Regions from separate parts of the Homo sapiens genome. Here region 1 is linked to region 2. The links come from fine-mapping of genetic effects on gene expression. Tissue or cell type: whole blood. Region 2 holds a variant in brackets; the other region holds the start of a gene. All regions are shown on one strand. Distances are from middle to middle.

Evidence for each region. PIP is the estimated chance that this variant, and not a neighbour inherited with it, causes the effect. A credible set is the group of variants that fine-mapping cannot tell apart.
Region 1: it holds the start of GSN, and the variant in region 2 is the best candidate, but not a certain one, in a credible set for the expression of GSN in whole blood (INTERVAL, PIP 0.66).

Annotation. Positions count from the first base shown.
Region 1 is chr9:121,265,854-121,271,223 of GRCh38, forward strand. GSN (gelsolin) reads left to right here and starts at 2,309. Exons shown (of 18, transcript NM_198252.3): 1 at 2,309-2,366. RefSeq lists a silencer at 2,197-2,496.
Region 2 is chr9:121,289,141-121,294,510 of GRCh38, forward strand. All of the region lies in intron 2 of GSN (gelsolin), which reads left to right. Among named protein-coding and RNA genes, the nearest start is that of GSN-AS1, 6.3 kb to the left of the region's middle. RefSeq lists an enhancer at 5,249-5,370. The variant T/C (reference allele first, on the strand shown) is at 2,080.

The DNA.
Region 1 (5,370 bases), 23 kb before region 2:
GACTTCTAGGCATCCATGAAAGGCAGACTTGATATATCCTGCCAGCTATAAAATACACATGTTGAGTCATAAAGCAAAGCACCAGGAGATTTCTAGAAGTGTTCCTAGAGGAGCACTCCCATGTAAGTATTGGTTATCATCATCACAATCATCATCAATCAATCATCATCATCATTATCTTCATTATCATTTCTAATGATTCCTGGTGATACCCTGTTCCCATGTTCCTCTCCAGCCACCAAATGGAGCAATTACAGGGTTATGGGTAGGCATCTGACCCAGCTTAGAATATGGAACCTTAGATCTAGCTTAGAATGTGAACCCTTTTGCTCTCCTGGCCTCAGTTTCTCCATCTCTAAAGGGAGGAGTTGGAGCAGACATTCTCCAATGTTTCCTCCATCGTGATGTGGTATTCTCCAGTTCTATGGGGACACAGATTCAGAGTTCCACCTCCCTTTGTCTGAGAGCAGTTGCTGGGGCTGGAAATGATATGTTAGATAATTCCAAGGCATGTGTATGCCGGGGCTTGTAATCAAAGATTCCAGAGCCAAATAAGCCTGTGTTTTTGCTTTTCTCCCCAGCAGCCTTGCATTGGGCCCCAGGCAGCCTCTGGAGAAAGCAGAGAGTAGCAGAGATGGTGTGAGCCTCCCTGCGGGGTGGATACCTTGCTTGTATTCTCAGAGAAAGTGGAACTGGGCAGAATTTCCCAAGCCAGGAAAGGTGGCAGAGTGTGACATAAGACATTGAGCAAAGAAGCGAGGGCCAAGGACTCAGGCATAGAAGAGTAGACTGCACAGTATCAGTAGTGTGACCTCCAGAGAGTACTTAACCCTTTCTGTGGGCTTGGCCTGCTCATCTGAAAAATACACATGGTAATGCCTCCCTTAGGAGGCCAGGTAGGGAGGTGAGAATTAAAGTCGGTAATACGTGGGAAGCCCAGAGCATGGCATGAGGCATTCAAGAAATGGTTCTTGTATTTACTGGTGTTGAACAAAGAGAGAATGGCAGGAGGAAGAGCCAGGGTGAGATTCCCTGGGTCCTGTGGCTTCCCTGGCTGCTATTCAATGGAAAAACCAGGGAGTGAGCACTGTGCTCTTGGCTTCTGTGCTACTTAAACAACAGCCTTTTCTGCTCTGATCCCCAGCACCCGGCAATTACTGACTCTAGTACATTTTACCTTGTGTTAAGAGGGAGCTTTACCCTGGCTGAACATGGGGCTGCTGCCAGCACCCAGGCTGGGAATGGACATCTCTGTCATGTGGTGCAGTCTCCTGTGGAGTGTGTGAATCCTTCCAAACCGGAGTCACGCGGCAACTCCAAAAGTCCTGGGAACTCATGTGTGCACCAGGACTGCTGGGAGGCCGTCTTATGCCTTGCTGCATTATAAACGGCTATCGTCTCAAATGCATATGAGATGTTGTTGAAATCAACAAAGTATTACATTTGCTTAAAATTGACCTTGCACTCATCTTTCTACCCAATGTGGATTTCCTCAATCTCCTAAAACAGTATCTGCCATGACACTAATAAGAACATCCCTTCCGTTTATGCAGAAGCCACGGTCCCTGTCATTGTGCTGAGAGTCTTTTTCTCACTGAGTCTTCTCAACCGCCCCATGAAGCGGCAATTCAGGATGCCCATTTGACAAACGAGGAAACGGAGACTTAGACATGTGAGCTCGCTTGCCCAAAGTTACAGGACTAGTCGATGTCTGGGGTTCCAAACCAGGCCTTCTGACTCCGAGGCGCCTGCTTAATGGTCCACTTTAAGGACCAGGGATGCACTTGGCATTTTCGTTACTTCATTCGGAATGAGCTGGGAATCGCTCTTCCTCCTTATTCCCTTCCGTGGGAGGGAATCTCCCCTGCTTTGCATGCAGCCTATGTCACTCTTCGAGGGCTTTGCCTCCTGAAGTCCGTTCTCTCCAGGGCTGAAATCTGCCTCCGCTGGTGCTAGTTGAGCATTGCTCGCTTGCCCGTCCCATCTGAGCTCTTTGGCCCCAGCCCAGCTCAGGAGCTGCCCTGGGTCTCCTCCCCGACCCTAGGCCTCTTCAGATCTCCCCTCCGTGCTCCGGGCCTCAGTTTCCTCCAGGGGAAAGCAGAGGGCTTGGTTTGGTGCCTTCCTGCGAGGTGAAGCGAGGGGTCCCCCTGGACGAAGGCGAGCTTGGAGCCACCCGCCCAGCAGCCGACGGGAGGGCCTGGCGCTCCTCCCCCACCCGCCTGCCCGGCCGCCCCGCCCCGAGGGCGGCTCCCGCCCGCGCCCTGCCCACCCCGGCCGCGCGCACCACAACGCCCCCGCCCCGCCGCCCGGAACCAGCTGAGCGCAGCTGGACCCAGCAGCCGCTGTCTCCAGTGCCGCAGCAGCAGGTAGGGGAGGCGCGCGGCCCCGGCCCCGGGCATCTGGGGGTCCCGGGCTGATTTGAGTCCTTCCTCTCCCTTCCTTCCCGGTCCTATCTCGCCCGCGCCTGGAGCTCGGCCCGGCCGCGGGGGCATCGCTGGAAAAGGGCTTCCTCGCTCACTTTTCCCGTCTTCCAAGGGACCAAAGAGTGTGGATGGGAGTTGGGGGATGGGGAGACGCCGGAGCAGGAGAGGAGAGGGGCCAGGCCTCCACCCCGTGATTCCACTGTGCTGCTAGCACCTGAGCTAATAACCTCGACCCCGCCCCCGGGATGGGGGAACTGGCCCGGGGTCACCCCTGCACTTGGGTTGTCTGACCCGGGCATGCAGGGGACCACCAGCTACGGTCTGGGCGGTGACTCTGCTGGGGAGTCCACTCAGAGGACCCTTGCCTCCTGGACGATACCTGTGCCTGCTCTCCTCTCCAGCTGCTTCCTCTTTCTGGGGACTGTTAGAAAGTTCTTCCTTACACTGTCTGAAATCTTCAGGCGCCTGCTACCTGTAGGTGCTGGCTTCTCCCCGGCCCTGCAGTGTTCCCTTCCCTGACTCACACGGAAGCTTCTTCTGGAGTTGAAGACAGTGATTGGAACCCCTTCTCCCTGAGCCCCCATGTCTTCTGGGGTCCAGCCCCCCAGAACCTAAATAACAGCAACTTCCCTCTGGTCCAGTGCAGGCTGGCTGGTCTGGGCAGTGCCCAGGGGGAAGCCCCAGTCCTTGGAAGGCTGGGGGCTGGGGGTGTGGGTGAGCAGGAGACATTGGCTTTCTTCCTAGCTCCTTGTCTGCCCAGACATCTGTCGCTTTATCCTGTCTTCACACCCTCCTCAGAGCATGGAAGGGAGCTTTAAAACACCCAGAACTCATTCTGGGCTGTCCTGAGGGTAATTGGACTTTGTGGAAGGCGGGGCCTCTGGGGAGGTGCCTTTCGCTTTTGTTTGGCATCTGGGGACTTTTCAAACACTTAATCCTGTGTGTCCTGTTCTCCCAGGACCACATTTCTGACCAGGGCACCAGGACCTCTCACCGCTCTGCCGTTTACAGCGACCATAGCTTGCTAGAATCTTACCCCATCTCCATTTCCTCCATTTCACAGTTGAGAAAAGTCAAGGACCCAGAGAGTTTATGATGGGCTAATTGTCACACAGTGAGGCAGGGTAGGGCTGAGACCCAATTCCGGTCTGCCGTTTGCGGACTCCTTGCTGGGAGGGACTCTAGCCTCCTTCTTGGGTGTTCCGTTTACTAAAGGGACAAGCATTCCCTGTACATACACACTTGGGGGTGCTGGTTGGTGTTTCTTGGGGCTGTTAAGGGGGAGAGGCTTGGAAACAGAGGAGGAAGGATGGGGGTGGGAACGGTCGGCTTTCAGCTCCTTTGAAACTCCATTTTTCTTTCTGGGGCCATGCTATTTATAAATGCCAGGGAAATTGTAAACAGCCAGGGGAGCTTGGGTTGGCACTCGGTGAGTTACACAGCAGCAAAGAAGGTTTCTGTGTGAATCAGGGGAGGAAAGTTTACTCCAGAATTTTCCACAGTCCTTTTATTAGGGACTAACATGAGCCTGGAAACAGGCTGCTCCCAGGAGGGGTGGCTGCAGGGTTTGCCCCGCATGGCATTTCCTTCCTCCCCGCCTCCCTCCTTTCAGCACTTCTCTGGGCCTGTGTTCTGTGCCTTGCCCTGCGAGGGGCCAAAGAGCCTTGGAAGAGGACAGAGCTCTCTGTCCTCAAGATGCTTGCCATCTATACTGTTTGACACTTTTGTGCCATATTAAGAGTGACTTCAGCCTGCAAGAGGAGTGACTAATTTTGTCTAGGTGAGCCAGACCTCAGAATGAATAATCATTTACCAGGAGAAACAGGAGTTGGGGGAAAAGACATTCTGGGAAGCAGGAACCACTAGTGCAAAGGCACTGAGATTTTCTGAGCCATCCATGTGGCTAGAGTGGAGGATGGGAGAAGGGCGGGGTGGTGGGAGGTTGAGAATCTAAATGAAAATGGAACTAGATTATAAGCTAAGGGTTTGGACCTCATCCTGAAGGCAATGAAGAGCTGAGAAAGGGTTTTGACAGAGCAGTGATTTTTAAAAACTCGTTATTCTGAATGGCTGATGTAGGGGATGCATTGAACGAGGCTGATCTGGAGGCAGGAAGGCCCTGAGGAGGCTGTTGCATGATTCAAGTGAAGTAGATTGCAGGTCTGAACTAGAGCAGTGGCCACTGGGATGGGTCAGAGCAGCAGATTCTGGAAGCCCAGCTGAAGGTCTCAGAACCTGCTATAAATTTCATCTAAAAGCAGACAACAGGCTAGACCTACTGGAGAAGGTTGCTAAGGTATTCAGCATTGTAACTTTTTTTTCTTTTTCATGAGTTTTAAAACAAACAAAAATTGTTAAAGAATCCCTCCAAGCCCGCCTCTTTCCCCAGAGGTCGCCACTGTTAACAATGGTGTGTGCACTCCTGCCAAACACGTTGATTGGATGCCTTCACTTTTAGCCATCCAGTGACAGTGGGTCACTTTCCCCTACTCCATGTGAATAGTTTGGGTCATTTGTGATGTGGGTCATAGAGATGATTTCTGCTTGGTCTATGGTACGTTGCTGAGACACTGAGCTCTGGTTTTCTTTAAGAAAACTTTTACATCCTGTGTCTGCGGCCTCTGGGTGTGTATATTTGCTTATCAGAGACCACAGGTGTGAGAGAAGTTAGAAGCACTGACTTGGAAATGGACCCCCAGTCTTGGTTCTTTGGGTGACCTTGGGCAAATCCTATCTCTCTGAGCCTCTGGTTCCTCATGTGTAAAATGGAGAGATGTTGGTTTGCATGATAATAATAAAAAGCTATCTTTTAACTGGGCATGGTGGCTCACACCTGCAGTTCCAGCATTTTGGGAGGCCGAGTTGGGTTGATGGCTTAAGCCAGGAGTTTGAGACCAGCCTGGTCAACATGGTGAAACCCTGTCTCTACTGAAAATACGTGCTGGGA
Region 2 (5,370 bases):
CTCCTCACAAAGGCAGTCTGTTTTTTTTTTCTTTTTTTTCTTTTTTTCTCCCTCCTCCTCCCTGTCTCTTTGGATGCCAAAGAGTGGGAGGGGCCCAGCGGAGTGGTGGCCAGAGTAACCCCCCGCCATCCCATCAGCTCAGACAAGGGTCAAAGCTTGGGGCCAAGCCCACGGCTCAGGAAGGGTTTGCCAGGCCCCCAGATCCCCTCTCTCTGAGATAGCTGTGAGCACCAGTGTTGGCTGGGGTGAAAGCCGGGTAATTTTCCTCTAAGCTGTCCTCCCTCCGCTCCCCTCCCTGCCTGCTGGTGCTGGCTGTGAGCACGTCTGCATTCCAGAGCTTAGGAGAGAGAGAACCTGCTGCTGTTAAGGTTGAGGAAGTAGATTGCTAACAGCTGCTGTAGGAGGGGTTGGATGTGCGGAAGAGGAGGCCGTGGATTGCAGGCTAACATTTCTTGAGCCTCTTGGCACCTGGCACTCACTACCTCATCTTGTCTCATTTGCATAAAGCCCCAGTAGCCCGGTGAGGAGACAGGCCCAGAGAGGCAAAGAACTTGCCTAAGGTCACACAGGGAGGCAGAGCCAAGGCTAGACCTTGGTCTCCCGGAGGCAGGCAGGTGAGGTTGTATAGAGGTGATGGCACAGGGGATGTTGTTGGGGGGTTAGTGGGCAATGAGACTGCAAGGGCTTGTGGGCCCCATATCACAGAGGACCGAACTCAGGAGTCCTGACTTCTTTCTGTCTGCACCGAGGTCTGCAGAAGGGATGATGCAATCTGTATGAGTGACAGGCCCAGTGCAGAGAGAGTTTAAGGGAGTGAGGGAGCTGATGTTATGATCCCAGGGAAAAGATGGGGACACCAAACCAGGACAGTGGCTGGAGTGTGGGGGTGAGAAGTGGGTATAAAGTGGAGAGGAGATGAGCTTGGTCTCTGCTCTGGTCTCAGCCTTTATGTACTGTCTTGGTGGGATGACCGTGGTTGGGTCCTGCCTCCAAGGGTATCCCAGAGGGTTCTAGAAACTCCCACATGGACAGGCACTTGAAGGATAGTGCTGGTGATTGGGCAGGTGCCTGGATGGAGGTGAGGCCTAAAGCACACCCGGGGACAGAAGGCAGCACCCACACGGGAGCCCAGCTTCGTGCCAGGGACTGTATTTTAGGTGCTGGATCTTGTTTAAATCTTCCGGCTGGCTATGATTATCCTCTAAGCTGGGGAAGGAAGAAAAGCATTCCAGTACTATACCTCTGTTTGGGTTAAAGGAGGGGAAAGTATTTTAAATAAAACCTATTAGAGTTAAAAGGATGAGTAGCAATAAAAATATCTTTGAATCTCTGATGGTTCTATTGTAGTCAAAAGTTTTAGATAAATTGTGAAGAATCTCTAATCATGCTATGTGGAGTTTTTCTCTTTTAAAAAATACAAGTTATTGTATATACTTAAGGTATATAACGCGATGTTATGAATACATTTAGATAGTAAAAAGGTTACTATAGTGCAGCAAATGAACATATTCATCATCTCAGCTGGCACAAAAGTAATTGCAATTTTTGCCATTACTTTCAATGACGAAAACTGCAATACTTTTGCACTGCACTAATAAAATCTGCTCATTTAGCATGAATCCCAAAATACAGTACAACTTATTCCCTATAGTCCTCATGTTGCACATTAGTGCTCTTTTTTATTTTTAAATTTTTATTTTTGTTATTTTTAATATAGAGAGAGACAGGGTCTCACGACATTGTCCAGGTTGGTCTTGAACTCTGGGGCTCAAGTGATCCTCCCTCCTCAGCCTCCCAAAGTGCTGGGATTACAGGCACAAGCTCTCTACACTTGTTCATTCCACGTATCTGCTACCTTGCACCCTCCATATCCTCATTCGTGGATTCAACCAACCACAGATCAGAAATATTAAAAAAAAATAAAAATTAAAAAAAGTAAAAATAATACAAATTTTAAAAACAGTGCAGTGTAACAACTATTTACATAGTTTATTGTTACATAGAAATTTACATTTACATTTTTATGTAACAACTACAGTATAACAACTATGTAAATAGCATTTACATTGTATTAGGTTT[T/C]ATAAGTAATCTAGAGAGATTTAAAGTTTAATACATGGGAGAATATATGTAGGTTGTATGCAAATACTGTACTATGCCATTTTATATATTGGTGTACAGCATCTGCAGATTTTGGTATCTGAGGGAGGTCCTGGAACCAACTGATCCCGCGTGGATAGGGAGGGACAACTATTCTCTGATATGTCTCCCCACTGGACTTTTTTTTTTTTTTTTTTTTGAGTTGGAGTCTTGCTCTGTCACCCAGGCTGGAGTGCAGTGGCGCGATCTCGGCTCACCGCAACCTCCATCTCGTGGGTTCAAGCCATTCTCCTGTCTCAGCCTCCTGAGTAGCTGGGACCACAGATGCCCACCACCATGCCCGGCTAATTTTTTGTATTTTTAGTAGAGATGGGGTTTCACCATGTTAGCCAGGCTGGTCTCGAACTCCTGGCCTCAAGTGATCCACCTGCCTCCGTCTCCCAAAGTGCTGGAATTACAGGTGTGAGCCACTGCACCTGGCCCCCATTGGACTTTTTCTCTAACTGATTTGTACTTGTATCAAGTTCTGGTGAGTCCGTGAGATAATATGGCCATTCTATCCCTGTGGACACTGAAGCTCAGAGAGGTTGTGTCCCTTGCTCAGCATCACTCAGTTGTAAGTGCTAGGACTGGGATCCAGAGCCCTCACTTTTTTGTTTTTGGTTTTTTGCTTTTTTGAGTCAGGGTTTCACTCTGTCACCCAGGCTGGAGTGCAGTGGCACAATCATAACTTACTGTAGCCTCGACTTCCCAGGCTCAAGTGATCCTCCCACCTCAGCCTCCCCAGTAGCTAGAACTACTGGTGCATGTCATCACGCCTGGCTAATTTTTTAATTTTGTGTAGAGACAGGGTCTCACTCTGTTTCCCAGGCTGTTCTCAAACTACTGGGTTTAAGCTATCCTCCTGCCTTGGGCTCCCAAAGTGCTGGGATTACAGGCATGAACCACCATGCCCAGCCAAGAGCCCTTGTTCTTTTGGGTGAGGCAGAACAGGCAAAGTCAGAGAGGAGGGGAGGGGGTGTCATTAGGAGTCTCATGGAGGGGATTGGGTAGCAAGGCTGGCTCTGTAGGTGTTGGCTTGAGGCCCTCTCCTGAGATGCATCCCCATCCCTGGTACCAGCCTTGTTTGGAACCCTCCCTGTCTCCCTTGCTTTGTATGCAAAGACACAGAGGTAGAGGGCTAGGTATGAGGTAGGTATAGGGCAGGTATAGGGGCCAGTGAGCTGTATGTGTGTATAGGGTCTGGACACATGCTGTAGGTCATCTTTGGATGTTATGCTTACTGAGCACCTGCTGTGTGCCAAACACAGTGCCAGGGCTCCTTCAGTCCTACCAGACACCCCACCAGGTTGGCATCTTCACCTCATTTTACAGAGGAGGAAATTGAAGTGCCGCAGAAGGTGCCACTGGCTCAAGTTCCCTGGTGGTAGGGATTTGGGCTCTGTCCAGATTCATCCCTGTACATTGCCTCATATTCCTTAGGTTGGAAGGTCACTTGTCCTCACCCTGTTGGTCATTTTTGGTATCTCCAGCCCACAGAGACTCCGCAGGCACTCCTGGATCCCATTGTCTTTTCCCTCTTCCCCGCACCTGCCCCCTTTTGTCTTTCTCAGGGAGTTCTCCCTGCAGAGTGCCTTTGCGGGGCATGGTCCACGGATCCCTCACATTTATGGTCTCATTTAATCGTCTCAACTAGCCTTCAAGAAAGGCACTTTGACCCCGATTTTCCACATCCAGACAATGGGCTCACACTTCCTGCCAGAGCCCAGCAAGGAGGAAATCTTGGCCATAGTTGGTATGGGAGGCTTGGGGACACAGAAGGGCTTTGTTTGAAGCCAGCAGCAGGAGGGATGTGGCACCATCATCTGATGTGCTGCATCATTCATTGTCCCCATCGGGAAGGTGGTTGGCCTGGGGAAGCTTCCAGCATTCCTGGTAGATCCCAGTGAAGGATGAATCTGATCCCTAGGCAGGCAGGAGGGGACCCTGGCCAGATGCACAAACTTGTTTGCTTTTTGCTGTGTGTCTTTTAGCATCCTTGAGTCCCAGGGCCTGAAGGGTTCTTGGACATGGGCCGATTTTCCTGTCACCTATGTCCCCTCAACCTCATCACCACTGGGCAGCTCATTATCTCTCTGGAAAAGGGGAAGGAAACCAGCATTTGTCTTTCCATTTTTTTTTTTTTAAACTGTGGAAACATACACACATCATAAAATTTGCCATTTAATAGGCCGGGCGCGGTGGTTCACACCTGTAATCCTAGCACTCTGGGAGGCCGAGGAGGGCAGATCACTTGAGGTTAGGAGTTCGAGACCAGCCTGGCCAACGTGGTAAAACCCCGTCTCTACTAAAAATACAAAAATTAGCCAGAAATCACTTGAACCTGGGAGGCGGAGGTGGCAGTGAGCCGAGATCACGCCGCTGCACTCCAGCCTGGGTGACAGAGCGAGACCCCATCTCAAAAAAAAAAAAAAAAAAGAAAGGCATTTTTAACCCTATCTTACATGTAAGGAAATTGAGGCTCAGAGAGATAGAAACTTATCCAAGTCTCTCTTTTAACAATAAAAGCAGCCTCCTTTATATGTGCTTATTCTGTACCAAGCACTGTGCTAAGCCCCAAATGTTCTTTACCTTATTAAATTCACACAACTACCCTAGGAAAAAAGTATTATAATCCCCGTTTTATAGATGAGGAAACGGAGGCTCAGAGAGCCAAAACAACTTGCTCAAAGCCACACTGCTAATAAGTGATAGACCGGGGACTTAAATGCAGGCATTTCTGGTGGGAGCTCTTTCCACGATCACATAACAGAAGGTTGCTCTCTGTTTTTCTCCCTCTTGGAAAGTCCTTCCTCTGCAGAGCAGGAAGCTGCCTCCTGTGGCTTCTCCTGCTCATTCTGGCTTGGGTTGGGGCATTGTAGACCCTGCCTTCCCCTGCAGCTCTGCAGAGCCTGTGACTCTCCAAAGTCTTCTGCTGGTTCCACGGTCCCAGCATCTGCAGCCAGGCCTCCCTGTCTTGTTGTGGATTTGCGTTTGTGCCTGGGCTTCCCAGGGGTGGGTGGTGGGGTGCTGAAGGGGCTAGGACAGTTATTTGCAGCCCTGGCTACTGACCCACCACACCTCTCAGGGCCATTTCCTCCCCGAGAGAAGGGGAGACAGACTGCTGAAGTGGGTCCTAGCAAGAAGGGCCCAGAGCTCATACCCATGGCCAAATCTGGCTGCTTCCAGGACATGGGGTCAGGAAGTAGCAGGGCCAGGCCCCTCCAGATGTCC